7 linked regions of the Homo sapiens genome follow. The protein of the gene in region 7 interacts with the protein of the main gene of each other region in a pairwise test. Each region holds a gene or a part of one and is shown on either strand. Other genes may lie near its edges. The genes, in order: KIFC3, RABL2B, DPPA2, PLEKHG7, SDCCAG8, FCHSD2 and FGFR3.

What was found.
Region 1: the proteins of FGFR3 (region 7) and KIFC3 interact in binary tests that used the Homo sapiens proteins (3 or more experiments, as listed by UniProt).
Region 2: the proteins of FGFR3 (region 7) and RABL2B interact in binary tests that used the Homo sapiens proteins (3 or more experiments, as listed by UniProt).
Region 3: the proteins of FGFR3 (region 7) and DPPA2 interact in binary tests that used the Homo sapiens proteins (3 or more experiments, as listed by UniProt).
Region 4: the proteins of FGFR3 (region 7) and PLEKHG7 interact in binary tests that used the Homo sapiens proteins (3 or more experiments, as listed by UniProt).
Region 5: the proteins of FGFR3 (region 7) and SDCCAG8 interact in binary tests that used the Homo sapiens proteins (3 or more experiments, as listed by UniProt).
Region 6: the proteins of FGFR3 (region 7) and FCHSD2 interact in binary tests that used the Homo sapiens proteins (3 or more experiments, as listed by UniProt).

Annotation. Positions count from the first base shown.
Region 1 is NC_000016.10:57,792,492-57,795,991, reverse strand, and holds part of KIFC3 (kinesin-like protein KIFC3), read left to right. Parts: intron 1-850; coding exon 851-993; intron 994-3,500. UniProt on the Homo sapiens protein: Minus-end microtubule-dependent motor protein. Involved in apically targeted transport. Required for zonula adherens maintenance.
Region 2 is NC_000022.11:50,773,215-50,777,538, reverse strand, and holds part of RABL2B (rab-like protein 2B), read left to right. Parts: intron 1-789; coding exon 790-869; intron 870-1,687; coding exon 1,688-1,767; intron 1,768-4,324. UniProt on the Homo sapiens protein: Small GTPase required for ciliation. Activated in a guanine nucleotide exchange factor (GEF)-independent manner via its intrinsic GDP for GTP nucleotide exchange ability.
Region 3 is NC_000003.12:109,313,406-109,318,448, forward strand, and holds the start of DPPA2 (developmental pluripotency-associated protein 2), read right to left. Parts: upstream 3,113-5,043; 5' UTR 2,879-3,112; intron 2,332-2,878; exon of another isoform or gene 2,218-2,331; intron 1,576-2,217; exon of another isoform or gene 1,349-1,575; coding exon of another isoform or gene 1,335-1,348; intron 1,151-1,334; coding exon of another isoform or gene 1,138-1,150; coding exon 1,105-1,137; intron 1-1,104. UniProt on the Homo sapiens protein: Binds to target gene promoters, including NKX2-5 and SYCE1, but not GATA4, and may be involved in the maintenance of the active epigenetic status of these genes.
Region 4 is NC_000012.12:92,705,661-92,709,984, forward strand, and holds part of PLEKHG7 (pleckstrin homology domain-containing family G member 7), read left to right. Parts: intron 1-810; coding exon of another isoform or gene 811-971; coding exon 972-1,478; coding exon of another isoform or gene 1,479-1,493; exon of another isoform or gene 1,494-1,989; coding exon 1,990-2,012; coding exon of another isoform or gene 2,013-2,055; exon of another isoform or gene 2,056-2,889; intron 2,890-4,324.
Region 5 is NC_000001.11:243,269,187-243,273,510, forward strand, and holds part of SDCCAG8 (serologically defined colon cancer antigen 8), read left to right. Parts: intron 1-905; exon of another isoform or gene 906-918; coding exon 919-1,071; intron 1,072-1,791; coding exon 1,792-1,877; intron 1,878-4,324. UniProt on the Homo sapiens protein: Plays a role in the establishment of cell polarity and epithelial lumen formation. Also plays an essential role in ciliogenesis and subsequent Hedgehog signaling pathway that requires the presence of intact primary cilia for pathway activation.
Region 6 is NC_000011.10:72,838,319-72,841,818, reverse strand, and holds part of FCHSD2 (F-BAR and double SH3 domains protein 2), read left to right. Parts: intron 1-235; coding exon 236-365; intron 366-859; coding exon 860-942; intron 943-2,944; coding exon 2,945-3,028; 3' UTR 3,029-3,500. UniProt on the Homo sapiens protein: Adapter protein that plays a role in endocytosis via clathrin-coated pits. Contributes to the internalization of cell surface receptors, such as integrin ITGB1 and transferrin receptor.
Region 7 is NC_000004.12:1,795,469-1,799,792, forward strand, and holds part of FGFR3 (fibroblast growth factor receptor 3 isoform 1 precursor), read left to right. Parts: intron 1-3,785; coding exon 3,786-4,055; intron 4,056-4,278; coding exon 4,279-4,324.

The sequences.
Region 1 (3,500 bases), on a different chromosome or scaffold from region 7:
AACCCGGGAGGTGGAGGTTGCAGTGAGCCAAGATCGCACCACTGCACTCCAGCCTGGGCAACAGAGAGAGGCCCTGTCTCAAAAAAAAAAAAAAAAAAAAAAAAAAACAAAAAAGCCCAAAAAAACAGAATGTGTGTAAGGCCTGAAAAGCACTTGGCCCAGTGGCTGGCACTCGGGATATTGTTACGCCCCAGGGTAGTGGCTCTGCAGTGTGCCTCATGACTCGTGAGGCTGGCCCCCATCCCACCCTGTTCAGCCCTGCAGGTGGAGGTGGGTGGCTGGGGCATTGCTGCCACAGCCCGCCCTCTCTCCCATGGGTGAGGGAGGCGGTGTGTCAGAGGCACAAGGGGATGCACGTTAGCTGGTTCTGAATACGCTTGGGGAGGCAACGGAGGCTGGGCCACCTGGTTTGGATTTTGTCTTAATGAAGTCAGGGAAGAAATTGCCACCTAGAGGCAGCCGGGGTAATAAAGCCATAGCCCCTGTGCAAGTCCTCAAAGCTTCATGCAGGCTGGCTGGCAATGGCTTCCTTCCACTTCCCTGCTGAGCAGATGCCTGCCCCAAAAGCCACTGTGGGGATAGGGGAGCCTCCGGTGGGGTATTGGGCCCCTTCCAGAAGAGAATCTTTGGGCGGCTTTTGGTAAGGAAGGAGCGTAGCCACTGCCCCGAGCCAGGCCTTCCCCTCTGCAGGGCAGGCGTTTTTTGGGTGTGTGAGCCCCTCCTGGCCACATCTGGACCAGCCAGGGATGTGTGAAAGCTGAGCTCAGCTGCGGCCCTGGCCAGTGGTCCATGGCTAGCAGTCTTTGGCCAGTGGTCGGAGTGTCTCACCTATCTCTCTGTCCTGGGACAGGGCGTGGAAAAGATACCCCAGTCTGCGGTGACGAGGACTCCAGTGCCCGAAGTGCAGCTCGCCCAGCCCTAGCTCAGTGCCGAGCCCTTAGCGTGGACTGGGCTGGCCCCGGAAGCCCCCACGGGCTCTACCTGACCCTGCAGGTAAGCACTGGGGCCTTCCAGGCTGCATGTGCCTTGGCTCTCTGAGCTCCAGTGGCTGGGTTCCTGCCAGGCTTCTGGGGGTAGGAAGCACCTGGGGAGAGCCGGGGACCCACCTCGCACCTCTCTGTTGGGCCCCTCATGACCCCTCTGCCTGGGAGCCTGCTTTATTAAGTCAGACGGGAAATCTCATAGGAGCTGACAGGAGCTTTTCAGCCATGCCCTGGCTGAGGTGTTAAAATGGGAAGCATGGGGCCTTAGCTGAGATGGGCAGAGCTTGGAGAAGGTATTGGGAAAACAGGCAGGTTTGGGGTGGTTGATTATTCTGAAACATGGTTATGTGAGTATTTCCTTGTATTTCCTTGGGAATATTTCCTTGTTTGAAGTGAGAATTCAAAGCTAGATGGAGGATTCACTAAAACTTGGGGTCTTCTCCCTTGCAGTTATCACCAAGTGACTTTAAAATGACAAAGTAAGGCTAGGCGCGGTGGCTCAGGCCTGTAATCTCACCACTTTGGGAGGCTGAGATAGGAGGATCGCTTGAGCCCAGGAGTTCACGACCAGCCTGGACAATATAGTGAGACCCTATCTCTACAAAAAGAAAAATAAAAAATTAGCTGGGCATGGTGGTTCCTATAGTCCCAGCTACTCAGGAGGCTGGGGTGGGAGGATCGCTTGAGCCCAGGAGGTTGAGGCTGCAGTGATTGCACCACTGCACTCCAGCCTGCGTGACAGAGTGAGACCCTGTCTCAAAAAAAAAAAAAGAAAAGAAAAAAGATAAACTTTACATATGTATGTATATTTGGCTATAGAAATAATACATAACGATAATAGTAATAAGAGCTACTGTTTATCAAACATGGACTCTGTGCCAGGCATTAAAAGATCTCATGTTAGTCCTCATCATACTCATAACAATCTCAGGATACAGTATTTGATCTGAGCTTTATAGATGAGGATGTGGAGGCTCAGAGAGGTTAAGTTACTCGCTGCTGGTCACATATTCGACCATTCAACACAACTAGCCTTGTAACAGGGCAGAGATACAGTTATCCAGAAACTGCCTCTCTTAGTCCTCTATCTTTGAGAAATCCACTATTAAGTATTTGGTGTTTATTTGTTTATCTTTCCTATATAGAACCACTTAATTAAATTTATATGATTTTTATTTTTGAGATGGAGTCTCGTTCACTCTGTTGCCCAGGCTGGAGTGCAGTGGCGTGATCTTGGCTGTAATATCCGCCTCCCGGGTTCAAGTGATTCTCCTACCTCAGCCTCCTGAGTAGCTGGGATTACAGGTGTGCATCATCACACCTGGCTAATTTTTATATTTTTAGTAGAGATAAGGTTTCACCATTTCACCATGTTGGCCAGGCTGGTCTTGAACTCTTTTTTTGTTTTTTTTTTTTGAGACAGAGTCTCGCTCTGTCGCCCAGGCTGGAGTGCAATGGCATGATCTCAGCTCACTGCAGCCTCCGCCTCCCGGATTCCAGTGATTCTCCTGTCTCAGCCTCCCAAGTAGCTGGGATTACAGGCGTGTGCCACCGTGCCCAGCTAATGTTTGTATTTTTAGTAGAGACAGGGTTTCATCATGTTGGCCAGGCTGGTCTTGAACTCCTAACCTCGAGTGATCTGCCCGCCCCAGCCTCCCAAAGTGCTGGGATTACAGGTGTGAGCCAGTGCACCCAGCCATATTTATATGATTTTTTTTTTTTTGAGACAGAGTCTCACTCTGTTGCCCAGGTTGGAGTGCAGTGGCATGATTGCAGCCCACTGCAACCTTCACCTCCCAGGTTCAAGCGATTCTCATGCCTCAGCCTCCCGAATAGCTGGACTACAGGCATGTGCCACCACACCTGGCTAATTTTTGTATTTTTAGTAGAGATGGGGTTTCACCATGTTGGCCAGGCTGGTCTTGAACTCCTTACCTCAAGTGATCTACCCGCCTCAACCTCCCAAAGTGCTGGGATTACAGGCATGAGCCACAGTTCCCAGTGCATATTTATATGATTTTTATTATTTATTTTACATGTTATTCTGTCACTAGCTCTTTCCCTCAAGTAAGTCCTGGTAATCTCTTCATGCTCATCAACACATAGAGAACTACCCTTTTTTTTTTTTTTTTTTTTTTTTTTTGAGCAAGGTCTGGCTCTGTTGCCCAGGCTGGAATGCAGTGGTAGAATCTCACTGCAACCTCCAGCCAAGTCATCTCACCTCAGCCTCCTGAGTAGCTGGGACTACTGGCATGTGCCACCACACCTGGCTAATTTTTGTAATTTTTGTAGAGACGGAGGTTTCATCATGTTGCCCAGGCTGGTCCCGAACTTGTGGGCTCTGCCTTGGCTTCCCAAAGTGCTGGGATTACAGATGTGAGCCATTACGCCCGGCCCTACCTCTTTCTTTTACACGGCTGCGTAATAGTCTACTTCAGGGCTTACCATAAATTATTTATAACAGATCCTCTGTATTGTTTCTGATTGCAGTGAGCTCCTTAAACAAATATCTGTGCT
Region 2 (4,324 bases), on a different chromosome or scaffold from region 7:
AGCCCCACCTTTCTCCCATGAATTGTTATATTACATAGGTTTGGAGTGAGTTCCTCCCCGCAACTGGGAGATTTTTAAACAGCTTCCCAAGTGGATCCACTGAGAACCACAGGTGAGAGGAGCCCCTGGAGCCTGCTGCTGCCTGTCCTAGGCTCGGCACCCCAAGGCTCAGTTGCCTTAAGATCTGAGTATGTGTTACTCCACCTTGTACCAAGTGCTCCTGCACACCCAGCCCACCTGCGTCATTTGGCTCTGCTTTTTACACTGTCCGGCTTCTTGCAGCCTCGGAAGCTGTTAATCCCCAGAGTTTAACCCTTTTTCTCAGGGTTTCACACATAGACAGACTCCAAATTGATTGACAGCTTGTCAGCTGTATGGCTTGTGGGAGCTTTTGTCCCTGGAATGGTCATGTTGCTACCTAGGGTTAGGGTTTCCTTTCTAGCCTGCGAAAGCTCCATCCATGATTGAGTTGGGGTATCCACATTTGCATTTTCCAACTGCATGATGCCTTTTATGACACTTGTCTGTAAAATCCTGTTCTGTGTTTTACCTCAGACTTCGATGGCCAGGACACACTCCCATCTCCTCCCACCCCTCACCCTTCCATGGAGTTTGTACCAGTGATATGTGAAGCTGATCCTCTGTCTGCAACATTCATTTGATTTAAAATCTCAATAACTCCAAAGAGAAGAGGAGGGAGAGGATCCATTTCATCAAACCAAACACCCCTGCTCCCCACTCCTTCCTTACCTCCCCTTTTATTGATTTTGCTCCTTAACCTGAGTGCAGTCAGCCACAGCAGCTGTCCACGTACGCCCTGACCCTGTACAAGCACACAGCCACGGTAGATGGAAGGACCATCCTTGTGGGTAAGTGGCACAGGGCCAAGACATGCTGACCCTCAGGAAAGAGGAAATGGGAGACGAGGGGAGGTGAGGGAAGGTTCATAAGGAGAGAGTCCAGAGGGAGAAAATGAGACCCCAGGCAGGGACAAGGGGTGCTAGAGAGAACCCAGAGAGCCAGGAGCCAGGAGGGTGGAAGGGGGCATGCAGGGGCCAAGTCCCAGCCCTCTGACCTGGCGTCCAGGCCAGCACCTGTGCAGGACAGGGTTCAGGAAAGGAGAAGTCAGGGGGCTGTACCCACCTCAGGGAAGAAGAACGTAAGAGGCCTTCGACGAGGCAGTAGTTTTCCTAGCTTCAGGGGTTGTTACTCAGCCAGTTTGAAAAAATAAATGTGGTCAGAACATTATCTCCCACATCGGGCTGCGACCTTCCATCGGGTCATAATCTTCTCCTTGGCCGGGCACACAGCCTGCCTGACTCTGTCTACCGTCTGTGGTCAGCGCACGTGAGAAGTTGGAATAGTTTGGAACTTAGAGGACCCTGCGTGTCACGTGGGAAACGGGGAACTGTCTTCTCCCTCCTTGGGCTTCCAGTGTGTTGTCCTTCCTCCTGGCCCCTGACCCACTGTCTTCCCATACACACAGGTGAAGACACACCTCTCACATCACACTCAGGTACACTGTGTCTTGAAGACACACGTGTGGGGCTGTATAGTCTCTGTTTCTCCCTGTGCTCCCCATGTACACTCACACATGTGCTGTGGTTTGTGCCGCATGTGTGTTGTATCTTAGTGACTTGCACAGAAGTGCACCAGGCATGTAGGTCTGTCTGTGTTCACATTGCAGACTTTTGGGACACGGCAGGCCAGGAGCGGTTCCAGAGCATGCATGCCTCCTACTACCACAAGGCCCACGCCTGCATCATGGTACGAGACGGTGGGGAGGTGGACAAAGGCACTGGGCAAGTCTGGCCTGAGGGGTGAGGGGCCTAGCAGCCCTGGGCCCTTGTAACCAAGTCTGGGTGTTGTGGGAGGGGGGCTTAGGGTCACCCGGGGATGTTTCAAACCACACCTGCTCCCCAGAGCTTCTTAGTGAGAAGGTGCCAGGTGAGCTCTCTGTAGGCGGGGATGGGTGGAGAAAAGGTGGAACAGCAAGCTCAGGGCTTCAACATCAGGTGTAGCATCCAAGAGGCAAACATGCCTGAAACAGGGCCACCGTCCCTCTGATGGACCTAACCTGTCAGACAAGCTCCCAAGGCCTCCCTCCACTGTTGCCTGCTGCCTTTCCCTAGGGGGCGCACGCTGGGACTGAGTAGATGCTGCGGGTCCCAGAGAACCTTCTCTCTCAGGCCAGCCCCTCGCCTCCCCCCGAGCCTCCCATTGTGTTGCCCAGGACGCAGTCCTCACGGCTCCCCCTGGTGACCCGGGTGTGGTGAAGCAGTCGCTCCAAGAGAAAAATGCAGCCGAGGAAAGGGCTGAGAAAGGAAAAAGGAGCTCTGTATACCTGTGTCCTGTAGAAGTTCCTACCCGTGAATTCCCTGGCTGGGTTCTCAGGCCACCACTTTTAAATGCTGAAAAGGAGCATGTTTTTCTTTTGGGTCACTTAAAAAACATTTTCATGGCTGGGCACGGTGGCTCATGCCTGTAATCCCAGCACTTTGGGAGGCCAAGATGGGTGGATCACCTGAGGTCAGCAGTTTGAGACCAGCCTGGCCAACATGGTGAAATCCCGTCTCTACTAAAAATACAAAAAATTAGCCGGGCATGGTGGCGGGTGCCTGTAATCCCAGCTACTTGGGAGGTTGAGGCAGGAGAATCATTTGAACCCAGGAGGCAGAGGTTGCAGTGAGCCGAGATCACACCATTGCACTCCAGCCTGGGCAACAAGAGCAAAACTCCATCTAAAAAAAACCCACATTTTCATGAATATCAGCCATCAACAATGCAGAAAGTAATAGACTAGTCTTCTGAATTATTAACCCTAGCAATTGTCACCAAGTGAAAACCTTGGTCACTAAAACTTCTTGGAATAGCATTCAAGGTCTTGCTTTAACACAAAACCCCAAAACTTGGCGGTACAAAACAACCATTTTCTGATGGATCGGGAATCCATGTCTGAAGTCTCAGCTAAGAAGACTCCAAGGCTGGGTTCCAGGCTGGAACTGCCTGGGGCATCTCCCCACACACACACACTGGTACTTGGCTGGACCACCAGCAGGTTCTACTCCCCGTGTTTCTTCGCAGTTTGTCATTTGGGCTGATTTGGGTTTGCTCACAGAGTATCAGCCAAGATCCCAAGATCAAGTATCCAAAGAGAACCCGGTGGGACTTATATTTCCTTTTATGGCCTAGCCCTGGAATATGTGGCATCTCTCTGTCCATAGTCACAGAGGGAAGAAACAGATGGCATCTCTCAGTGGGGAACCAGAATCATATGGTTAAAAGAACACATGGGATGGACAGGTTGCCACCATTGTTGGCATACATTAATAAAGTCTGCCACGGGCCGGGCGCGGTGGCTCACGCCTGTAATCCCAGCACTTTGGGAGGCCGAGGCGGGCGGATCACGAGGTTAGGAGATCGAGACCATCCTGGCTAACACGGTGAAACCCCGTCTCTACTAAAAATACAAAAAAATTAGCCGGGCGTGGTAGCGGGCGCCTGTAGTCCTAGCTACTGGGGAGGCTGAGGCAGGAGAATGGCGTGAACCCGGGAGGCAGAGCTTGCAGTGAGCCGAGATCACGCCACTGCACTCCAGCCTCGGCGACAGAGCGAGACTCCGTCTCAAAAAAAAAATAAAGTCTGCCATGGCACCCCATAGCATTTAGACACCCACCTTTCTAGCCCTACCTCCCACTTAGTGATTGTCTGTAAATACGCACGGCCTTACCTTGGCACTGAGAGAGATGCATGGCTGAGCAGGTGTCATCTCATCTGTAAGAAGCAATAGCAGAGGGGATGCAGAAGGAGCTGCTCTGTTCTGCTCATTGTCACCTGCTCCTCTGCACACCTTCCTTCATGCTCTTCCCTCAGCCTCTCCCCAGCTCACACCCCTTTATTTGAAACTCTGCTCATTTTTCAGGCCCTGCTTCAATGCCACCACCTCCGTGCAGCCTCCTCTGATGTTTGTCATTAGCTTAGCTCTTTCGTGTGTGCTCCTGCACCACTGATCCCTTCCACAACATGGACTGTCTGTGATGCACGTGTGCAGGATGCTGGGAGTGCCCAGGTGGAAAGACACACGTGCTGCCCCCAGGAACTGACTGACTGGTAGGCACAGTACAGATACCAGTGGTGAGGACAGTGAGGATTCTTCCCTTCTGACCCTTTGCAGATGGTAAAGGAAGGAACTCATCACCTAATTCCCCCGACTGCCCCTTGAGAACAAAATCCCTTGAAAAATTCCAAAAGCTTTAACTCTGATAACTGTTAAGGCACTAAACAAGAGGATGATGGGGCAAGGAAAATGGGGGCAGTGTAGTGC
Region 3 (5,043 bases), on a different chromosome or scaffold from region 7:
CTACACAGAGTAGGCATTCAATGTTGTTTTTATGATCTGATGAATAAAAGATAAAGTAGAAAAGCAGGTAGATAGAAAGAAACTAACATTTACTGGTTCTCTACAGTACACAGGCACTATGCTAGGTGTTCTTTATTTCTCAAATTTAATTCTCATAGTATACTTGTAGTAATTTATTAATTTTCCTGCTTTACAAATGAGGAAACTAAATGAGCAATGCCATAGAGTAACACAGGCTTGAGTATGGTTCTGAAGTTAGCTTTTCTTCTCAAATCCAAGGGTGAATAAACTCCATTCCAGTCCTATTGCAATATTCTCTTCTAGTGCTGATGCCACACTCCTGTCTCCTATTTAACCTCTTCAGTAGTTTCCCATTACTCTTAGTTTACTTCAAAATAACACTGACATTATTTAGGGAATACTACTCTATTACAGAGAAAAGTAGGGGCTCAAAGCAGCTATGTGACTTCCCCATAATCATATAGCTAATATTGGCCAATTCAGTCCTTTAGCCAGAGGACGGGTACAGTGATGCCTGTAAATACACTATGACACCTCCTCTAGTTTCTCATAGAGCCAGGACTACCCAAGCCTAATCTTGAAACTCATTTGGTACCAAGGCCACTGGGAGTAGATATTTCCTACTCTGAAAGAAAGTAACCAATTGGTCACTTTACTTTATGACTTTATCCACATTACCGCCTTCACTTTCTTTTCACCTTTGCTTTTAAAAAAAAACTTATTTTTAATTTTTAATTATCTTTTCTCTAATATTATTATTCTCCATGCCATTTTTATTTATTTATTTTTACCATTTTTATCTTGTCCAGCTATAGCACTTCTCATCTTTCCTACCAAAGAAATATTTTCCTTTGGACTAAGAGGAGAAAATTTTACTTCTTTTTACTCTCATCCAAATGCACATAAAAGCACAATCACATGAAAGAAAACTAACAATCTATTTGCAAAGAAGAGGAGGTTTCAAGATGGAGATTTCTTACATCCAGGAATGAAGATTTGTGGTAAAAGAGAAACATAAGGGAGACCTAGAAAGACTCTGAAAAGCGACTGTGAGAAAAGTAATTCTATTAGAATGAAACTTACCTTCTTGCTGCTATCCAAATTTGCATCTGACATTTTCAGCAACACCCTGGGGAAGGCAAGGACAGCAATGTTAAGGATATGGTAGTTTACTTCTCTTAACCTGCTTTCTCCTTTTATAAGCAAATGTTTCCTTCTACTTCCTGTTACCCAGATGAGCTCTTGTTTTCCTTTCCTCCTCTTTTTGCCCTCCCTCATTTTCTGGTAATGGGATAATTTTATCAATTTTATACCCTGTCTTGTCCATTCAGTGACAATGTTTTTTTAAAAATTAGGCTGGGTGCGATGGCTCATGCCTGTAATCCCAGCACTTTGGGAGGCCCAGGGGGGGCGGATCGATTGAGTCCAGGAGTTCGAGATCAGCCTGGGAAACATGGCGAGACCCCCATTTCTACAAAAAAACACAAAAATTAGGCGGGCGTTGTGGCGAGCGCCTGTAATCCCACCTACTCGGGAGGGGTTGGTGGGAGGACTGCTTGAGCCCAGGAGGCGCAGGTTACAGCGATCCGAGATCGCACCACTGCACTCCAGCTTCGCGAGACTCTGTCTCAACAAGTGAAAGAAGGAAAGAAAGAAGAAAAAAAAATAGGTGAAACTTGAAAGAAAACTGAAAATGACAAACACTTGTTGACAAGTTCCAATGGAATGAACAGAATGTTTTAGAACAGTTATAAGACGATATTGGTAACAAATTACTTATTACGAAGGGAATGGAAAAAAGATTCAGAGCATTTTACGCAGGTATTTTATACCTGATTTATGCACGGGGGTATGTTACTCACTGAAAGATTCCAGATTTAAATTGTGGGGGTTGGATAACATAATCTCTCTTCGATCTAGTTCTAAATACAAATATTAAGCCTGCAATAATATTGAGCTGGTTGGAGGAGAAGGATTTGGCTGTTCAGAATAGCAACAAGAGCCAAAACACCAAGGCAAGTGGTGGAGTAACGAAGGCAGAAGGAACGATGCACTTAGGAATTGCTGGAGCCTAATGTTGGACACGGAATGTGGCAAAATATGAAGCAGGTGTTCTCATAGGTCACTCTAAGAAGCCAGAGCAACTAAAGGAAATTTCATTCACCAATAATATGGCAGCACTGGACAACCAAGTACCTTTACAATGGGCTTTTTCTGTCCCTGGGAAAATGATTTGGTCCATTAATCTCAGGACCCAGGGTGACCATGGTCCATTTAAGTTACTAGTGTATTTAACACATTCAAAATATTGTCTGGACCTGGCACGGTGGCTCATGTCTGTAATCCTTTGGGAGGCCTTTGGGAGGCCGAGGAAGGACGACCACTTGAGTCCAGAAGTTCGAGACCAGCCTGGGCAATATAGTGAGACCTCATCTCTATGAATAAATAAATAAATAAATAAATTTACAAAAGAAAAAAATGTAGTCTGAAAAAGCTCAGCTTCAGTTTACTGAGGAACTGATTGGAAAAATAAATTATGAGGCCCCACCCCACCACCCAAGACATCCTGAATCAGATCATGGAGGGTGAGGCTGAGGGGCTGAGGAATCTGTGCTTCCACAAGCCCTCCAGGTAATTTTTTCTTTTTTTCTTTTTTTAGACAGGCTCTGACGCCCAGGCTGGAGTGCGGTGGCGCGATCATAGCTCACTGCAGCCTCGACCTCCTGGACTCAAGCGATCTTCCCACTACAGCCCATGCCGTCCCACCCCCGCCCCTCCCCCCACACTCCAGTAGTTGGGATTACAGGCCCGCGCCACCACGCCCCGCTAATATTTAAATTTTTTGTAGAGAGGAGACCTGGGATGGAAGGAGATTGCGGGGACGGAGAGGATGTGGGTAGGGGGCCTCACTGTGTTGCCCAGGCTGGTCTTGAATTCCTGGCTGAGTTCCCAGACTCAAGTTGATCCTCCCTCCGCAGCCTTCGGAGTGGGTGGGACTACAGGCCTGCACCGCCACGCCCAGCCCTCCGGACGATTCTTAAGCTCCTGAAGTCTAGAAGCCTTAGCTAGATCAGGCCATAAACAAAGGGCTTTGGAGACAGGCAGTCCGCGGCAGATAATGATCGGAATTCCGGCTCCTCCCTTCCAGGGTGGAACCTGAATGCAGCCCTCTAAGATGCAGCCAGGAAAGCACTCCGCCTACCCGGTTGGGTGTGGCCCCTGGTGCTTTGAATGGGCAATTTAGAGGAAAGCTGACCTAATGGCCTGAGTTGATCCTAATGCCTTAGGTAGGGACAGGATTTCGAGTGGGAAGACCATTTCATTACCATGTTTTCTTTTCTTCATTGCATTTTTTACAATATAATCATTTTAGGCCGGGCGCGGTGGCTCACGTCTGTAATCCCAGCACTTTGGGAGGCGGAGGCGGGCGGATCACCTGAGGTCAGGAGTTCAAGACCAGTCTGGCTAACATGGCGAAACCCCGTCTCTACTAAAAATACAAAAATTCGCCGGGCATGGTGGCACATGCCTGTAATCCGAGCTACTAGGGAGACTGAGGCAGAACAATCGCTTGAACCCGGGAGGCGGAGGTTGCGGTGAGCCGAGATTGCGCCATTGCACTCCAGCCTGGGCAACAAGAGCGAAACTCCGTCTCAAAAAAAAAAAAAAAGTAAGAAAATCTATGAAAATCTATGGGAAGAATCTATATTGGAATAGCTTAGGGAAACTTTAGAGAAGATTACACTTTTTGAGGAAGAGCTTACCAGTCGTGGAAGTAGTCAATACAAACAGGGAACAGACTCCCTAGCTACTCGGGAGTCTGAGGCACGAGAATCGCTTGAACCCAGGAGGTGGAGATTGCAGTGAGCCAAGATCACGCCACTGCACTCCAGCCTGGGCGACAGAGAGAGACTCTGTCCCCCCAAAAAAAAAAAAAAAAAAATCTTATTTGTTTTCCTGGGGTTTTTTCCCCAGCTTTTTGAGAATGTTTTATTATGGGAAGGTTCAAACATGTACAAAAGTGTGTCTACTTTTTGTCATAGTAATTTACTTACAGCCAGTCTGGTTACATCTAAATTGCCGTCCATTCCTCCTCCATGGGTTATTTTGAAACAAGTGCCAGATCGCCTATGATTTCGTTCATAAATTCAGGGAAAAGGCCGGTGCCATGGCTCACACCTGTAATCTCAGCACGTCAGGAGGCCGAGGTGGCAGGAACAGTTGAGCCCAAGAGTATGAGACCAGCCTCGGCAAGATAGTGAGATCTCATTGTTACCAAAAAAATAAAAATGAAAATAAAAATAAAATAACCGGGCGTGTGGGTGTGGTGAGACATGCCTGTGGTCCTAGCTACTCAGGGGGCTGAGGTCAGAGGATCCCTTCAGCCCAGGAGCCCGAGGCTGCAGTGAGGCTGTCTCAATAAATAAATAAATAAATCCAGGGGGAAAAAATACTTCGTTCCTATTATAACTACGATATCCTTTTTACATCTAAACATAATTTAAAAAATCATTATTTAATATTATCAAAGTATTCAAATATATGTTATGTTCAAATATCCAGCAGTATTCAAAACTCCAATTATCTGGCTGGGCACCGTGGCTCACGCCTGTAATCCCAGCACTTTGGGAGGCCAAGGCAGGTGGATTACCTGATGTCAGGAGTTTGAGACCAGCCGGCCAACATGGAGAAACCCTGTCTGTACTAAAAATACAAAAATTAGCCAGGCATGGTGGCACGCACCTGTAGTTCCAGCTACTGGTGGGGGCTGAGGCAGGAGAATTGCTTGAACCCAGGTGGTGGATCTCAAAAAAAAACAACAAAAAAAAAACTCCATTTATCTTATATATTTTTCTCTTCCCTCATTTTCTTTTTTTTAACAATCTATTTGAATCAGCGTCCAATCAAGGTCTGTGATAAATTGAAATAGGCCTTAAATTTTTCTTTATAAGTTATCTCCATCTGTTTTTATTTATTTATTTTAGGATCTCACTATGTTACACAGGCTGGGCTTGAACTCCT
Region 4 (4,324 bases), on a different chromosome or scaffold from region 7:
ACCTGGTCTGCAAATCATCAAGCATCAACTCTCATGCCATAAGGGATGTGTAAGGATTGATGTTTTCCCACACATACCTTCTTCATGTGGGAAAGTACAGAATAACGAAACTGCAATAAGCCACTCCCATGAATCAAGCTGTGAAATGGAAGGGTCAGCTTTTCTTGAGCATGAGAAGAGATAATTCTGCATGCATAGATTGCAAAAAACACCTCCAATCATGAACAGTAGGGTACCTGGTGATGTCTGGGTTTTTCTTTTCAAACCTGCAAGTCCTTTTTCCAAAATGTAAAGATTGATAGAATCTAAGATAAAAGACGTTGTCAGATACTTTACATCAGTTACCTTCAAAGCCTGTCTCATTCTGTAATTTAAACCTTGAGGGAAGGAGGCTTGTTTTCCTTGTTCTTGCATCCCCAGAATGCACCACAATATGTACATACATACATAAATGTAGATGATAAGGAGGATTTAATGTATATTTGATTCTCTTAAAATGGAATAATCACAAGGGGAGGAGCTATGTGGTTTCCAGGAAGTACCTTAAGTTACCAAAGTTTTTAAAGGCTTTTTTGTTTGAACCTAGAAGGAATATTAAGTAGACAGTAAACAGACTTCAATACGCTATTTAGATGAGAAGGCTGGAGTCACGTATATTAATTATCTTCTGAACGTAAAGGATGCTGATGTGAACTGAGCTCTATTGCCTATGAAGAATTAGAAGTTTTCCTTTGAAATTTTAGACCTTTTTTCTCACTGCAGTCTCCCTCATTTGCTACATATTTCACAGTCTGCTCTTCCTCACTACAGATGCAATAACCTGCTTGACATTCTCCTCTGGAAAAGGAAAAGAACTACGAGAGGAAGCATGGCACTTGGATGCAGAAATTGAGCACCCTCCATGTGATCCAGAGAACAGCAACTCATACGTCTTCTGGAACCTTCTACCAACAGTAGAACCTCTTAGCTTTATGGAGAAAACAGAGTCATTCTGTCCAGAGGTGCCACCCCAAGACTGTGGAGCCTCTCCTCGGCCCTCGCTGAGGAGCCTGCCAAAGAACCAGGGGAGTCTCCTCCAGTTTGACCGGCAAGCCCCAGGCCGCATCTCCACCTCGCCCACTTTGAGGAGATTAAGGACCCGTGGCTGTGGGACAAGGCAGGATGCCTGGCAGGTGACCACCTGGGGAAGCTGGGGAGCTCCTGTGGGCTTCCCATGTTACCTTTCGAAGAGCCTGCCAGGAAGCCCAAAGGATTCTTCACACTTGCTGTCACCCTTGAGACTCCACTCAAGATTGACCTCTGAACCTGAAAGGGCCCTGAATGCAGCTGACTCACTGGAGCCCCAAACCCGGCCCACTGACAAGTATCTCCCTCCTGAGCTTCAGCCTGTCAATGAAGGGTCCCTTCACCAGGCCTCTCTTCGGCAGCAAGAAGGCCACTTCCTGCCCAGCCCCACCCTACGACACCCTAGTCCTCAGGTAACACAGCTCTAAGCCTCCGGCCTCTCAGTTGCTGAACCACAAAGCAAAATAGATCTCAGAGTTGCTTAGTTCCCCCAAGGGCCAGTAGATCCTAAAAAGGAGACAGCACAGGAAGTCACACTGAGGGGACACATTCTCTTTAGGAAGCATTGGCTCTTAAGTGAAAGGAGGGCAGCAATCTGGGGAGGAAAGAAAATGATCTCGCTCACTTTCTTCTGTCCTTAGAGGCACTTTGAGAAAGGATGCACCAAGGCCAGGCTTACCGATGGTCTGTCAGGTACCCGAGAGCAATGGGGGCCCTCTTGCAAATGCACACTATTTAAAGACAACGTCGTGTCACTGATTTAAAAGGGGAGAAAGAGCCAGTTATTCAAATTTCCAATCCCACCAAAATGTAAAACATGTTTTAACTAGGAGGGCTCATTGTTTCTCCTTTCAACATGTTTGCTTTGGAGTTTGGGATGGGTTTGAGCAAGACTAAAACATATGTTCTTAAAATTTATTTCAGGGAGAAGAATTGCACCCATCCAGGTGTGTATGCATTTATTTTCTCCGGTGCTATGACATCTGTTGACTATTTACTATTAGATTTTTATTTCTGTCCTGACATAACAAAGCTGACGGTGTGTTAACCAGTGCACTTTGTTTTATAGCACTCAAGTCACTCTTCGCATTTATAGGTGCACGAGTTTTCATTTCAAGAGTCTCCCTTTAAGAGCACAGCATTTGGGGGCAGGATACAATGCCATATGCAGTCATAGTTTTCATTTTGAATTGTCAATGTCTTGGCCCTGTGGCTTAATTAACATCCACTTAGTAATAGGTTTTGTCTGGTAGAGAAAATAGAAAGGCCAGAGATATGCAACAGCTTTTCAAAGAAAAATTTGGAGGATAAAAGAAAGGAACAAGATGTCCTGGTTAAATCTAGGGTGACCTTTAAAATAACCTGTTATGACAGACTGTGCCCTTATCCAGAATGAAGTAGACTGTGTCATTTCCAAAACCAGCTCTGAACTTTCAGCACGGCCCCCTGGTTGTAGCAATGGATCTGCCATCTCTGACAGGGATGAAGAGTTTCTGCAGCAGCAAGGGAAAGATCCATGCCCAATTTTATCTTCCTGACTTGTGGGATTGGCAGGAAAGCCCTCATTTCATTTGAAAAGTCACAGAGGATTTTTTTGGAGAAATAGCTGCTGTTTTATTACTGGACCTCAATCCTCAAGCAATAGTTTGATATTCATAGCAGTAAGGATAACATCCATGTACACATTCTTTGTTGATTTTAATCCTTGTTGGCCTAATTGTACCAACAAAGGTAGAAGATACTTACCAAGCCATAGGGAAATGCAAATTGTTATGTCTGTGTATCAGCTAGCTGTTGCTAGATAAAAAACCACTTAAAGTAACAGACAGTTATTGTTTCTTATAAATCTCTGTGTTCCCTGGGGGTGACTTGGTCTAGGCTGGGTTTAGCTGAGCAGTTCCACTCCAAATGTTCCTTATCCTGCTCATGGGATCAAAGGGCTCCCATGGGTCCATGGGATCAATTAAGCAGATTCTTTATACAGTGAAGGGAGAGGTTCAAGAGGACAAGTAGAAACATGCAAGGCCTCTTGGAGCCTGGGCTCTGAATCTGGTCTAATTTTATTGACCAAAGCAAGTCACTCAGTTGAACTCAGCGTCAGGGAATTACATGTTACCAACAGTGGGAGAGCATTGAAATGTTACATGGCAAAGTGTATGGATGTAAGGAATGGGGAAGAGTGGGGCTGTTAATGTAAATCTTCCATACATGTGAAACAGAATAAAGCTCTCAGATGAGATCTAGTTCAGTTGTGTCAAAGAAAGTGGAAAAGGGTAGTCTTAGAAAAAAAAATTATGTTTAGAGTCGAATTATTTTAATAAGATTTTGAGAAATTTTATTCCTTACCCTAAGAGCAGTGTGAAACCATTTGATGAATTGATATGATCAGATGGATGTCAGATATACCTGGGATTTAGATGCAAGTAGACTTGAGTCAAATAATTCGAATGTTCAGGTATGAGAAGTTGTTAAGTTAGATTATGATGAAGGCAGTGGGGTTAAAAAGAAGTATCTCAATGCAAGAGATATTTAGGAGATACAATCCCCCAGACTTTGTGAATGGTAGCCTATCAGGGTGAGGGAAAGGAATCTTCAAGAATGACCTCCAAGCTTCTGGCTTGTTCAACTGGGTAACCAAGGTGTCCATTCACTGACCTAGATAAACTTGGGTAAAGAAATTAAATATGAGTGGTTAGAGTGTAGGTCTTGTGTTCAGGTTTGGACATGTTGAGTTTGAGGAACTATGAAACATCTAAGTGGAGATTTTGAGTAAATAATTGGTTAGAGAAGGCACCAGGGGTGGATGTACTATATGTATATTTGTGAGTCTTAAATCAAGGAATGTTTCCTAGAGCAGGTAAAGTCTGGGTCCAGCTCTGATTATTAGATGGAGCCGGCAGACATAAAGGCAGATCAATGGGATGCATGAAGCCATTTGCAAAAAAATGATGTGAAGGTAATTTCCATTGCCATATGAAATCTGTGAGGAAATAACAAAAATAGTCTTGGTAAATTTTAAAAGAACAGCTAGGTCAGGCTGGGCACAATGGCTCATGCCTATAATCCCAGCACTGTGGAAGGGCCAGGCAGGCGGATCACTTGAGGTCAGGAGTTTGAGATCAGCCTGGCCAACATAGTGAAACCTCATCTCTACTAAAAATATTTTTTCTTTAAATAAGCTGGGTGTGGTGGTGGGCACCTATAACTCCCTTCTTAGCCTGTTGACTTAAAGGTAGGAGGAGCCCAAAGTGTCCAGGTG
Region 5 (4,324 bases), on a different chromosome or scaffold from region 7:
TTGGGTGTGACATGGTATAACTTTTATTGCATTCTATTGGTTAATGCAGATTACAGGCCCAGTCAGTTTCAGATTAGAAGAGAACAAGGGAATGAGGCTGGGTTCCTTGGAGGCTATTTTTTTTTTTTTTTTTTTCTGAAACAGTCTCGCTCTCTTGCCAGGCTGGAGTGCAGTGGTGCGATCTCGGCTCGCTGCAACCCCTTGGAGGCTATTTTTAGAGATGAACTATCACAGTAATATACCTTAAAATACTTCATTTTAGACAGTTTTTGTGTGTTCTAGGGGTGGTCAGTTGCACTAACCAAGAATCTATGAGGTGTGGTTGGCCAGCAGTATATAGAAAGAGCTGTACCGCCGGGGCTGCCACTATAAGCACTTCAGCTATGCAAATTTTGATCAAAACTAGGCCAGACATGTGGATGTCTCTTGGTGGGGGAGGGATTTCCTGTCCCCAGGGACAATGAGGCTTCCCTAGGTTGGAACTGGGTGTGACGCAGTCCCTTTTGCTGGCTCTTCCCACCTCCCCACTGCTCCTTTCGTCCCCCTCTGTCTCCAAGTTGGTAAAGGAGTCAGGCATGGTGGGAAGGAGAGCACTTCCCTTAGCAAGTTATTGTTTAATGGGAGCTGGTGGGAAGAGTTCTGTCATTTAATCCTTGCCGGTGGTGCTATATGTAGTGAAATCAACTGCTACAGTGGTAGGGGCCTTAGAGATCATCAAGTCCTACCTCTAAACCATGAAGTTAATCTTCTCTCACCATCTTTGGCACATCCCTCAGCAAGCTAGAAACAGAACTCTGCGTTTTTTCCATAAAGTACGAGAAATAATGATTTCACCTTTAAAAACTGCCTTCCTGAGTAAGTGTCCGTTTGGTCAACCAGACTCCATGGGTCCTAACTTTCGTCAGGTTGTTCTTGCAGAACATGCCAGCAGAAGCATTCACCAACTGACATGTGCCCTGAAAGAAGGCGATGTCACTATTGGAGAAGATGCACCAAATCTTTCTTTTAGCACCAGTGTGGGAAATGAGGACGCCAGGACAGCCTGGCCCGAATTACAACAGAGCCATGCTGGTGAGTGTGAATGTCAATCCTAGTCTGAATGATGCATAGTGAATTTTTTAAACTCCGTAGAATAATAACTCCATTCATTCTTCATTCTGCTGCTATGATGTTATTCCTCAAACACAAATCAGATAATTTAATTCCCTCGCTTAATCTTGTTTTCCTTTGACTTCCCAATGCTTATAGGCTAAAGTCCAAAATTCTTAGTTATAAAATAACAGTGTTTTCCTAAGATAGCTCTAACCTGCCTCTTCGGCTCATCTTTGTGTACTTCTCATGCTAATCATCCATCTCACAACTCATATTCTAGTTATAATAACCTCCTCTCTATGCTTTTATGCTTTGACATGTGCAGTGACTTCTAACTGGAATTTTTCTTATCCTTTTCTGCTTGGTGAACTCCTTCCTGTTTATCCTTGCAGTGTTATCTCCTCTGTGAAAACAAGCACAATTAGCTTCTTCCTCTTCTTGTAGCACTGTGCATAGCTTTAGGTCTACATACAAACTTATTTTATATCTATTAGTGTCTCTCTCTTCCTTGCTAGATTCTTAGCTCTTAAGGGGTAGAAATTCTTTTTTTTTTTTTATGTTGGTCTTGTATCCCCAGTTGATAGCAGAATTCTTGATGCATAATATATCAGCAATTTTTATTAGTTGGAAGGATGGATGGGTGGTAAGAAACCATGGATCTCAAATAAGGTTAATAAACCCTCTGCTTTTGCTCTATAGTTAATCAGCTCAAAGATTTGTTGCGCCAACAAGCAGATAAGGAAAGTGAAGTATCTCCGTCAAGAAGAAGAAAAATGTCCCCCTTGGTAAGTATCAACTTTTCCAAGTTGACAAAGCATTCCTGTGTTTTACTGTATTGTGTTATTTTGTAGTACATGTTGCAGAAAAAATTTAAGCATGGCATACTAATAGTGAAAAACATTAAAAGTAATTCTCTTCCCTCTGATTATTTTGGCTGAAAAAATAGATTTCCATGGCAGAGGGAATCTTGATTTTTTAAATTTATTATTCACTTGGAAAATGGGAGCAAGGGAATAGTTTGGAGAATTTATTTTGCAACTGTTAGCAAAATATGTAATATAAATATATAATATATAATAAATTAATATAATAAATTATATGTCAGAATATATGTAAAAGATAAAGTCATTATTTTAGTAATTTCTTTTTTAGAGGGTCATATCTATTATTGATCATTTTTAGAAGTTACTTAATTATAATTGTAGCCCTACTTTGTAATATTTTTTAAATTTTGAGTGTCAAAATAATACATTTTATTTTTAATTAATTAATTAATTTTTTTGAGACAGAGTCTCATTCTGTTGCTCAGGCTAGAGTGCAGTGGCATGATCTCGCCTCACTACAACCTCTGCCTCCCTGGTTCAAGCGATTCTCCTGCCTCAGCCTCCCTAGTATTTGGGTTTACAGATGTGCACTACCACACCAGGCTAATTTTTTGTATTTTTAGTAGAGATGGGGTTTCACCATATTGGCTAGGCTGGTCTCGAACTCTGAACCTCAGGAAATCCATCAGCCTCGGCCTCCCAAAGCACCGGGATTATAGGTGTGAGCCACCGCGCCTGGCCTCAAAATAATACGTTTTAATATGTAATGTTCTATATGTTAAAATATATGGTTATAAAATAGTATGATATATAAGAAGTGGTGCTGTATTTCTTCTGAAGTTGTTTGTTATTGCTTTGACAGAGTGTATTATTTCTGATTAAAGCATTTTATATGCTAAAGGCTGAGATAGATGTGAGTGAAAGCACTCTGGACCAGATTTAAGTGGACAAAATAATAGTCAAGGGCTTAGTTCTATCTAGGGTCTATCACATACTCTCTAAGATATTGTGCCTGTCTCACAGAGTTTTTGGAATAATGAGATAAGATTACATACTTAAAATTCTTTAGAAACCTATGAAGTGTTACATAAACATAACATGCATAGCAGCAAGTAACCACCTCACATTTTCAATGTGTTTTCTAGTTCAATACAATGCCTGTATGCTGAAAAGTGTGGAGACATGTCACTTTCTTTTCTTCACCACTGAAATATCAGAGTATCACTCCCATACGAACACTCCATTCCAGGCTGACACATACTTTTAAGCTTAATTCCTACTTTAGAGAAATGTACTTCATATGCATATTCTAAATTTATAGATACAGATTTTATAATTTTAGTAAAACATCTCATCATTTAATGAATTTATTACTATTGACATCTGGTTTCTAGCTTGCTCTTAAGCACAGACTGGTGGAATGCTTTTAAATCTACTAGATGAAGTTGCTTTATCTGTTGAATGCTCAGACATGCTTATTTGCCTTTTAAAGTCTGAGCAGTGATATTATGGAGCTTACTGAATCCAGACAGGCAGGAAGACCTTCACTAAGAGAATCAGTTTAGTACATACAGAGTGCACTTTAAAATACACAAGTCTATTTATATGGAGCTATGTAAAAGAATGGAACTTAGACTCTATATGTATACAGCCTACATGTAATAATTATAAACCATAATAGTAATAATTAGCTTTTTAAGATTATACCTTTAGAATGCACTTTCATAGCCAGTATAACATATTAGAAATACATGCATATATTGAGAGTAAAACTGAGGCACTGTTGAGATGGAAAAAAAGTTATTACTTATTGTCTTAAAATGTAGATATCTAAACTAAAGCCCTTCAAAGTAGACACAAATGATTTCATGTGAACATTTTTCATACAATATTGGCTTGAGCTTTTTATTTTTCACATTGACTTCCTCCTGTATACTCATAGTAGTAATTTATATTTGCCTATCTTCTGAACCTATTGCTATTAATGGAGGATGATTATAATTGTTTGATTTCTACTCAGGACAGATAATTCATTTAATTAGAGTTACTTTGGTTTTTAAATTTCTTAAATATACCAAAAAACCAAAGCTCTATTTTATTTTATTCTGCCATGATAGCTGGTACTTGATTATCATTTAAAATGTCTGCTGTGCTGAGAAAGAGAGTGGCTGAGAAACAGACACTGTGCCTCATTTCAAGCTTTCCTCTGGCTTTGTTTAACTGGTTGACCCTTGTTTTACCTTTTCCTGATTTCCTCATCCTTTAAAAAAAAAATTATGTGATGGGTATATGATTTTACAAACTATTTTAGGATAAGGTAAGCTATACATTAACAGTCAGTTCCAGGAATGCTACAGAGCTAAAATAGCATTAGCGTTTTTTTGAAATCTCTTCGTTGGACCCCTCAA
Region 6 (3,500 bases), on a different chromosome or scaffold from region 7:
AAGATAAACTAAAATCAGTAATGTGATGAGATCTGTAAGAGGAAAAAGTGAAGTGCAATGCAAAATTGGAGCTTGAGGTGGTTATTTAATGCTCAGTTGCCTCTAATGAGGTTGACAAGTTTCAACAATCAGCTTAGCTTTAGAGAAAAGGCATGAGTACAGAGCAGTCAGAGAAGCAGCCAGGCTCTCCTTCCTGGAGGGGAGCACCGGGTAACCTCGCTTCCCTTTGCTGCAGATCTCTCCTTCCCCCAAGCCACACGCCTCCCTGCCTCCACTGCCGTTGTACGACCAGCCTCCCAGCAGCCCCTACCCCAGCCCAGATAAGAGGAGCTCCCTGTACTTTCCCCGGTCTCCTTCAGCAAACGGTAAGGGTTCTCCTGGGCATGGGTCTAAATGCATTTTCACTTCAGAAACCTACATATTCGCCTGAAGGGCAAAAAAAAACTGCATTTGCTTTTTTTTTTTTTTTTTTTTTTTTGGAGACAGAGTCTCTGTCACCTGGGCTGGACACCCAGGCTGGAGTTCAGTGGCATGATCACGGCTCATAGCAACCAATTCCTGGGCTCAAGTGATCCTCCTGCCTCAGCCTCCCTAGTAGCTAGGAATACAGGCATGCACCACCACACACAGCTAATTTTTGTATTTTTTCTGGACAAAGGGTATTATTCTGTCACCCAGGCTGGAGTGCAGTGGTGGGATCATAGCTCACTGCAGCCTTGAACTTCTGGCCTCAAGTAATCCTCCCGCCTCAGTATCCCAAAGTGCTGGGATTACAGGCTCAAGCCACCATGCCAGCCTTGCATCAGCATTATTGCTCAACAACTCAAGTAAAATGAGCTTCTTTGGTTTTCTCCCTTAGAAAAAAGCCTTCATGCTGAGTCACCAGGATTCTCACAGGCATCAAGGCATACTCCTGAGACCTCATATGGCAAACTGCGACCTGTAAGTCTCTGATCTTGCAGGATTATCGAATGCATAGTTCTTCCAAATTGAAAGTAAGGAATTAATGTTTCCCCGTGGCCCCTGTGTTGTTACTGACTATGCCAAACAAGGATGAACTGGGTTTGGGAAGGTAAAAAGAGCTATTGAAAAGGAAGGCCATAGAAATCAACTCATCTCGGGACATTTAATCTACACTGGAACTTTTTTCACTGAGCCACAGTGAGATTGCAAGATGATGGCTATGAAAGTGATTTAGAATAGAACAAACTTTATGAGCATTAAAGCGGGCTAATTGTGAAACACTTTTTTCAGTAAGCATTTAATTTTCCAGGCCTCTATTTGCCTCTTTGAGGAATACCAAGATGAAATAATAAGCTAACTTCATGGCCTTAAAGAGCGTTTATTCTCCGGGTGAATATATTATTGCAAAGTTACCTCTCCTCACCCTTCACTCTACTGCCATCTGCATTCCACCCACCACTGTACTCCAAGGTCATAACTTGCACGGTAATCCAGTCGGATACTTTGCAATTTTATTTTCCTTGACCCCTATTAGCTTTTGATACCATTCCTTTACCACTGGCTTCTTTTGGCTTCATTCATTCAGCAAATATGTATTGAGTGCCTTCTTAAGGACTTGAGTCTTTATCCCAAATGAGACAGGAAGCCATTGTAAAGTGGTAAGCTGGACAGTGTTGTGGCTGGTGCATTTTTAAAGCATCGCTATGGCAGCTAAGAGGCGGATGGATGGAGGGTGGCAGAAAGGATATAGGGAGCGATTAGGAGGCTGGAGCAGCATCCAAGAAAGAAGTGGTGGCAAGATGGACTGGTGGGTAAGAGTGGGAAGAGAGAGCAGTGGGCTGATGTGCTTCTCTACATTTGCCTCGTTTGCTTTCTTCCTCTCTGGTCCTACCTTTCTGTGGACCTTTGCAGCCTTGCCGCCACCTGTCTCTGCTGATAATTCTCATGGTTCTGTCACTGGGCTGCTTCTCTTGAAGTTGTTGAACGCACTCTTGCCGAATGACCTCATCTACTTCCACAGCTATGATAACCATTTATATGCCAGCAAGTCTCAGATTTATAACTGCCAATCCGATCTCTTCTCTTGAGCTTCAGATGTGTGGATATCTCAGTTTATATATCCCAGATCCCCAAAACTCAGCAAAAATGAGTTATGTTCCCTTCCAGACATGTTCCTTCTCCCATATTGCCTATCTTGGTAAATGGAACCCCCATCCTACTGGTGTTCTGGCATCATTCTTAATACCTCCTGCCCCTGCCTCCCACAGTCATTCCCAAATCCTGCCAGGTATACCTTGCAGAGAGCTCGCAAATCTTTCCACTTCTCTACTTCCCCTACTGCCAGTACCCTCGTTTGGGCTATTGTCAACTCTCATTCAGAGGATTACAAAAGTCTCCTAAGTTGCCTTCTTACTTGGACTCTTGCTTGCCTCTGATCCTTTCTCCAGTTGTTACCTGAGTCATCTTTTCGCAGATCTGATATTGCTTAAAATCCACCAAAAACTCCTCTTTTGCCTACAGAATAAAGCACAGATTTATTTTTTTCTTCTTAAAGCAGATGTTTAAACATGGTTTAACAAGGCCCTTCACAACTTAACCCTAGCCTACCTTTCTAGCCTTCTCTTTTGTAACTCTCTACCCAAGACACACTGAAATGTTTCATTTCTCTAAGCATTGCTCTCCCTTGCTTCCAGCCAGACCTTTGCTTTGGAGGATGTGCTAGGATCTTAGTCATAGGACTTGTGCCCATGAGGTTTTTAGCCTAGGCAAGAAGCTGATTTGTGGGCTTGATATTTCATTGAGAACAACTGCTTCTCAGTGTAGGAAATAGTGAAGACTAGGTTGAAAGCACGTGCTCACAACATTTCTGAGACCCCTAGGGTGCCCATGTCCTTGGACAGATGAGTGATTAGGTTTTGGGGATGCTTCAGATACTGAGTCAGGAACTGACTGACAAACTACGTAATTGTTTCCTGCTCAGGTCCGGGCAGCTCCCCCTCCACCTACACAGAATCACCGAAGGCCAGCAGAGAAGATTGAAGATGTGGAAATCACACTGGTGTGATGATGGGCTTGCCCATCCATTACTGCTACAATCAAGGCCAGGCTTGGAGTTTGGCCAGTCTTGTTTTTTAGGCACCTTTGCATGATGATGACTCTTGAACAGAGCAAAAAACAAGGAGGATTATGTGTGACTGGGTGGCCTGGTAGACTCCTCCCACGTTTTGAATATTTCGTGCCTTTTTTTTTTGTTGTCATTTTCTATGTCATTTCTCCTACCATAGCACAAATCCTAGCGGACCCTAGGAGCAAAGAGGGGGGCAGCCCTCATGCCTAACAGTGGTCTGTTTTTATATGAGACTCAAGAACAGGCCTCATTCCAGGGCACAGTCCCTAAATTACTGATCATGTGCACTCGTACAGTATATTACTGTGACCACAAGGATGTGGCAAAGATTCTCATCTTTCTTCAAGTGGCTTTTGCTCATCTGATTGAGAATTAATCAGATCATGTTGGCTACATAAGGAAACAGAAG
Region 7 (4,324 bases):
AAACAGGTAGTGAGTTGATCGGTCAATAAACTTAATCCGGTTCCTTAACAAGATGGGCCGGGCAGTAAAAATACAAAGACCTCGTGAAATGGACTGAGGTCTAGGCTGGCGCTTGCCCGGGAACATAAATTATGGAGCCTTGGCTCGCAGGGGTCAAGGGCGGTGGGAAAGGTTTTGGCCACTGGACTGCCCTGGCCACCCCAGGCCCTGCCAGGACAGCCCCCATCTCCCCAGGGGGCCGTATTCCTGGTTGGGACCTGGAGTGACCCCCCAGGGTGCAGGGAGGTACACAAGGTCGGCTCTCCCACAGTCCCACCCCACCCAGCAGGGGTCTGGGGGTGCAGGGCCTTTCCCGAAGGTGCTGGCTGCAACCTCCCCCACTCCTCCTCTGCAGGGCTGGACTTTGAGCCGCGTGGGCCTCTGGGTGGTTCATTAACCTGGGCTGAGCCTGGCCTCCAGGTCCTTGTGTGAGCCTAGGAACCCCTTGTTACCCACCCCCCAGCTCCCCAGCCCTCAGGTCTCACTTGGGGCTAGATCTGGGGCTGTGGCACCCCTTGTTACAGCTGAGCTTGAGTGGGAGCCCAGGGGCTTGGGGTCTCCTGGAGGACGGGGATCTAAAGTCACCTCATCTAGGGAGGCATGCAGCCCTCACCTGAGTGATTCAGGAGTGAATGAGCCAGGAGTGGAGCCACCTTTGGTGGGGTAGGGGTCAGCCTGGACCTCTAGGCTGCCAGCTCAGGCTCGGGTGCCCTCTTCGAACCTCAGTTTCCTTACCTGTCCAAGAGAACCGATAATGGCAGGCTGTTTGAAGGATTAGGCCAGATAACCCTGGCAAGCCCTCTTTAGCCTGCCCAGCCTCCAGATCCCTTTTTTCCGGACTTTATTGTGAAACTCCAGGTGGGGAGACAGGGAGGCTGGACTTTTGGGGGCCCCCTCCTCTTAGGCTATTTTATAGCTCCTACCTGGCAATACCTCCTGTACCCCAGAGAGCTGCAGAGAACTTCATGTGCATCCGAAACCAGAATGTGTTGTTTCCTGACCCCAGGCCCTCATCTCACCCCAAAACCCAAATAAACCCCTGGGGCAGCCAGCTCCGGAAGCGAGTCTGGATTTGATCCTTGTTCTCTGGGGTCAACCCGAGGGGCTTATGATGGAGCAAGGCTCCCCCATCCTCTCAGCCATGCTCCCTCACATGCACTGGGCCTCCACTGCAGAGACCCAGAGCCTGGAGAAAGGTTCCCCAGGCCAGAGTTTGGCCGTCCCCAGCACCCTGCCTAATGGACATCAGTCTTGGGGCCAGAGACCCAGGGCAGGGAGCGCCTCTCACCCCTACCCTCACTCCTGCAGCCATTTCAGGGCCTGGTGCCCTCCCTGAGCTCCTGGGCCTGTGGGGTGGGATTTTTACTTTGTGCCACAGTGGGGGAAACTGAGGTACAGGACCAGTGAGTGGCAGAGTTGTGGAGACTCTGGGACACAGCAGAGGGCTGTCGTTGGCATGTGGAGCCCAAGTTGAGGTCGGCACTGTGTGGGGTTGGGGCGCCGGCAGGAGCACGTGTTGTGGGATCCATAGAAGGGTGGGAGGTGGGACGCGTTGCCTCCTACCCCGCCTTGGGTACAGCAGGAGTTTTGTCTCCAACGTGTTTGGGCACCAGTGTCTGTGTGGTGTCAGTGGGGCCTCCCTTTTGTGGATCAAGAAAGAAAGAACCCTTCCTAGGGCTGCTGGGGGGCTATAGCTCTCCCCATGCCTGGCAGCTGGGTGGGGTATGGGGGCTCCACCCAACTGCTGACTTCCCAGTGGGAGTCAGACCCTGAACTTATAGCACCCACTCATGCCCCGTGTCACACTGTCCTTCACCTGGTGCTCGCCACCCAGCCCCTGCTGGGGTACCCTGGCCTCTGCTGGCACCTAGCAGGCAGGCAGTGGGGGGGGCAGTCAGGGCTGCACCCTCCCCACCACACACGGGCAGATGGCCACTGGTGTGGCTGGCCTGGGGCTGCTGTGTCCCCCGTCCCCCCGTGCTGGACCAGGCTGAAGCAAATACTTGTGTGGATGGCTTGACCTGTTGTCGCCACTCAGACCAAACCGGAACCAACCGGCTGTTGCCCTTGGGCCAGGGCCTGCAGCTGAGGCTGCCATAACCAGCCTGTTCTCGGCCTTCTGGGGGGCCTCGAGCAGCTCCCAGCTCTGGGTGGTCCCCACAAGACACTGGCCAGGACCGGAGGGCTGGAGGTCAGGCCAGGAGCCCCCCTGACTGCGGGGTCCCTACAGGGGCAGTCCTTGAGCTGTGGGTCCCGGTGGGGCGAGGGCTCCTTCGGATGCTTCAGGGGATGAGTGTGGGCCCTTCTGGCTGGCAGGGTCACCCTGGGCACTAGGCGTGTGTGGCTGGATCAGGTGGGTTGGGCAGAAGAGGGCCTGGCCGGGCAGCCAGGGACTGGTGTGGCCAGAGTGGGCAGCTGGGCCCCCGAATCTAGGCCACGCGTCTGCAGAATGACAAGTGATGGCGCAACCCGCCCAGCTGGGTCTGAAGAAGGAGGCTGCCTGGGGGACCACCCACCCCCGTCCCGGCCCCAAGCCCGGGACGCCTGCCTGCATGCATTGTCTGGCCCTGGCAGGGAAGCCTAGGGGCGATTGTCCCCCCAGCCCTGCCCATGGTGTGTCCTTGGGTCACAGGCTTTGGTGGCTCTGGGGAGCTGGGCAGCTACTGGGGAGGGACCCAGGGGCCACCTGCACATCTGCCCCTGTGGGTGGGCCCCCACCCCAGCTTCTCAGCCCCCAGGGAGGGGCCAGGGCTGCTGACCTGCCCTGGCTCTCACAGCTTCCTGCCCCCAGCCTGGTCGTCCTCTGTGAGGGGGCCCCAGTCCCCCTGCAGGCAGCAGGACTCCACCCCCCGGCCCCCTTGAGGGCCCGCCTGGGCCTCCCCACTCCCCGGCCTGTGAGACCCACTTGGCCGGACCCAGCGCCGTGTTTGTACTTTGCTCTTCTCGGTATGTTTTCCGTCATGACCGCCGTGTGGAGCTTCCATAGGAGCTGCAGGATACAGAACCTTGCCCACCCCAAGGAGCCCCCACCCCCGCCCCGGCCCCCTCGCGCTGCTCCGGCCTGTGCTCTGACCGGTGAACCCGCGCATCGCCCCCCAGACCGTCCACACGGCCACGTGACCCTGCACCTCCTTCCTTCTCGCCTGTTCTGTTCCCTGGCTGTCCATCTGAACTGCTTTTCAGGCTCATATGGGGTGCGGGGGCTACTGAGGACGGACCCCTCCTGGGGTGAATCTGCACCACGAGGGGGCTGGCTGGCCAACCCTGGCACCCCCTCTGAGCTCCATTTCAGTCAGAGGCCAGCAAAGGGCAGCCTGTCCCCTTTGCCCGCAGCACCTGCCCGTCGTGGTGCCGCCTGTGAGACAAGCATGGATTTTATGTTTCCAAGCAATTGAACAAATTAAAAGAACGAAGAGTCACATTTTGTGACACTTTGAGATTTGAATTCTCCGTGTCCATGAGTGAAGCATCATGGGGCCACTGCTGTGGGGTTGGCTGCAGGTTGTGTGGGGAAGGCGGCTGTCACACCGAGGCAGACCGGAGTCCTTGGGACAGACTGGTTGGCAAAGCTGAAGATAGAGACCTTTGGCCCTTTTGGGACACAGTTTCCAGCCCCTGGTCTGGTGGGACCCTGGATCTGGGTCAGAGCCTTCCTCACTCAGGGCCGCCGAGGCTTCCACTGCTGTGTCTGTAAACGGTGCCGGGTTTGGGGGTGCCTGCCTCATGGTTGCCCATCTTCCCCACAGAAGTCCCGGGCCCAGAGCCCGGCCAGCAGGAGCAGTTGGTCTTCGGCAGCGGGGATGCTGTGGAGCTGAGCTGTCCCCCGCCCGGGGGTGGTCCCATGGGGCCCACTGTCTGGGTCAAGGATGGCACAGGGCTGGTGCCCTCGGAGCGTGTCCTGGTGGGGCCCCAGCGGCTGCAGGTGCTGAATGCCTCCCACGAGGACTCCGGGGCCTACAGCTGCCGGCAGCGGCTCACGCAGCGCGTACTGTGCCACTTCAGTGTGCGGGTGACAGGTGAGCTCTGGGGCCACGCCAGCTACAGAAAGGAGCCGAGTGCCGGGCTCCCTGAGTCCCTGCGTGGGTCAGGAGCGGCTGGGGGTCTCTCTGGTCATTGGTGGAGAGGAGGGCACCCCCAGGAAGTGCTGCCCAAATGGGGGACCCTGCCCCATCTGGGAGGGGCACCTGGGGGCCTCCTGGGGCAGGTTGGGCATTGGTTGCGGCCATCTCTGCCTTGCAGACGCTCCATCCTCGGGAGATGACGAAGACGGGGAGGACGAGGCTGA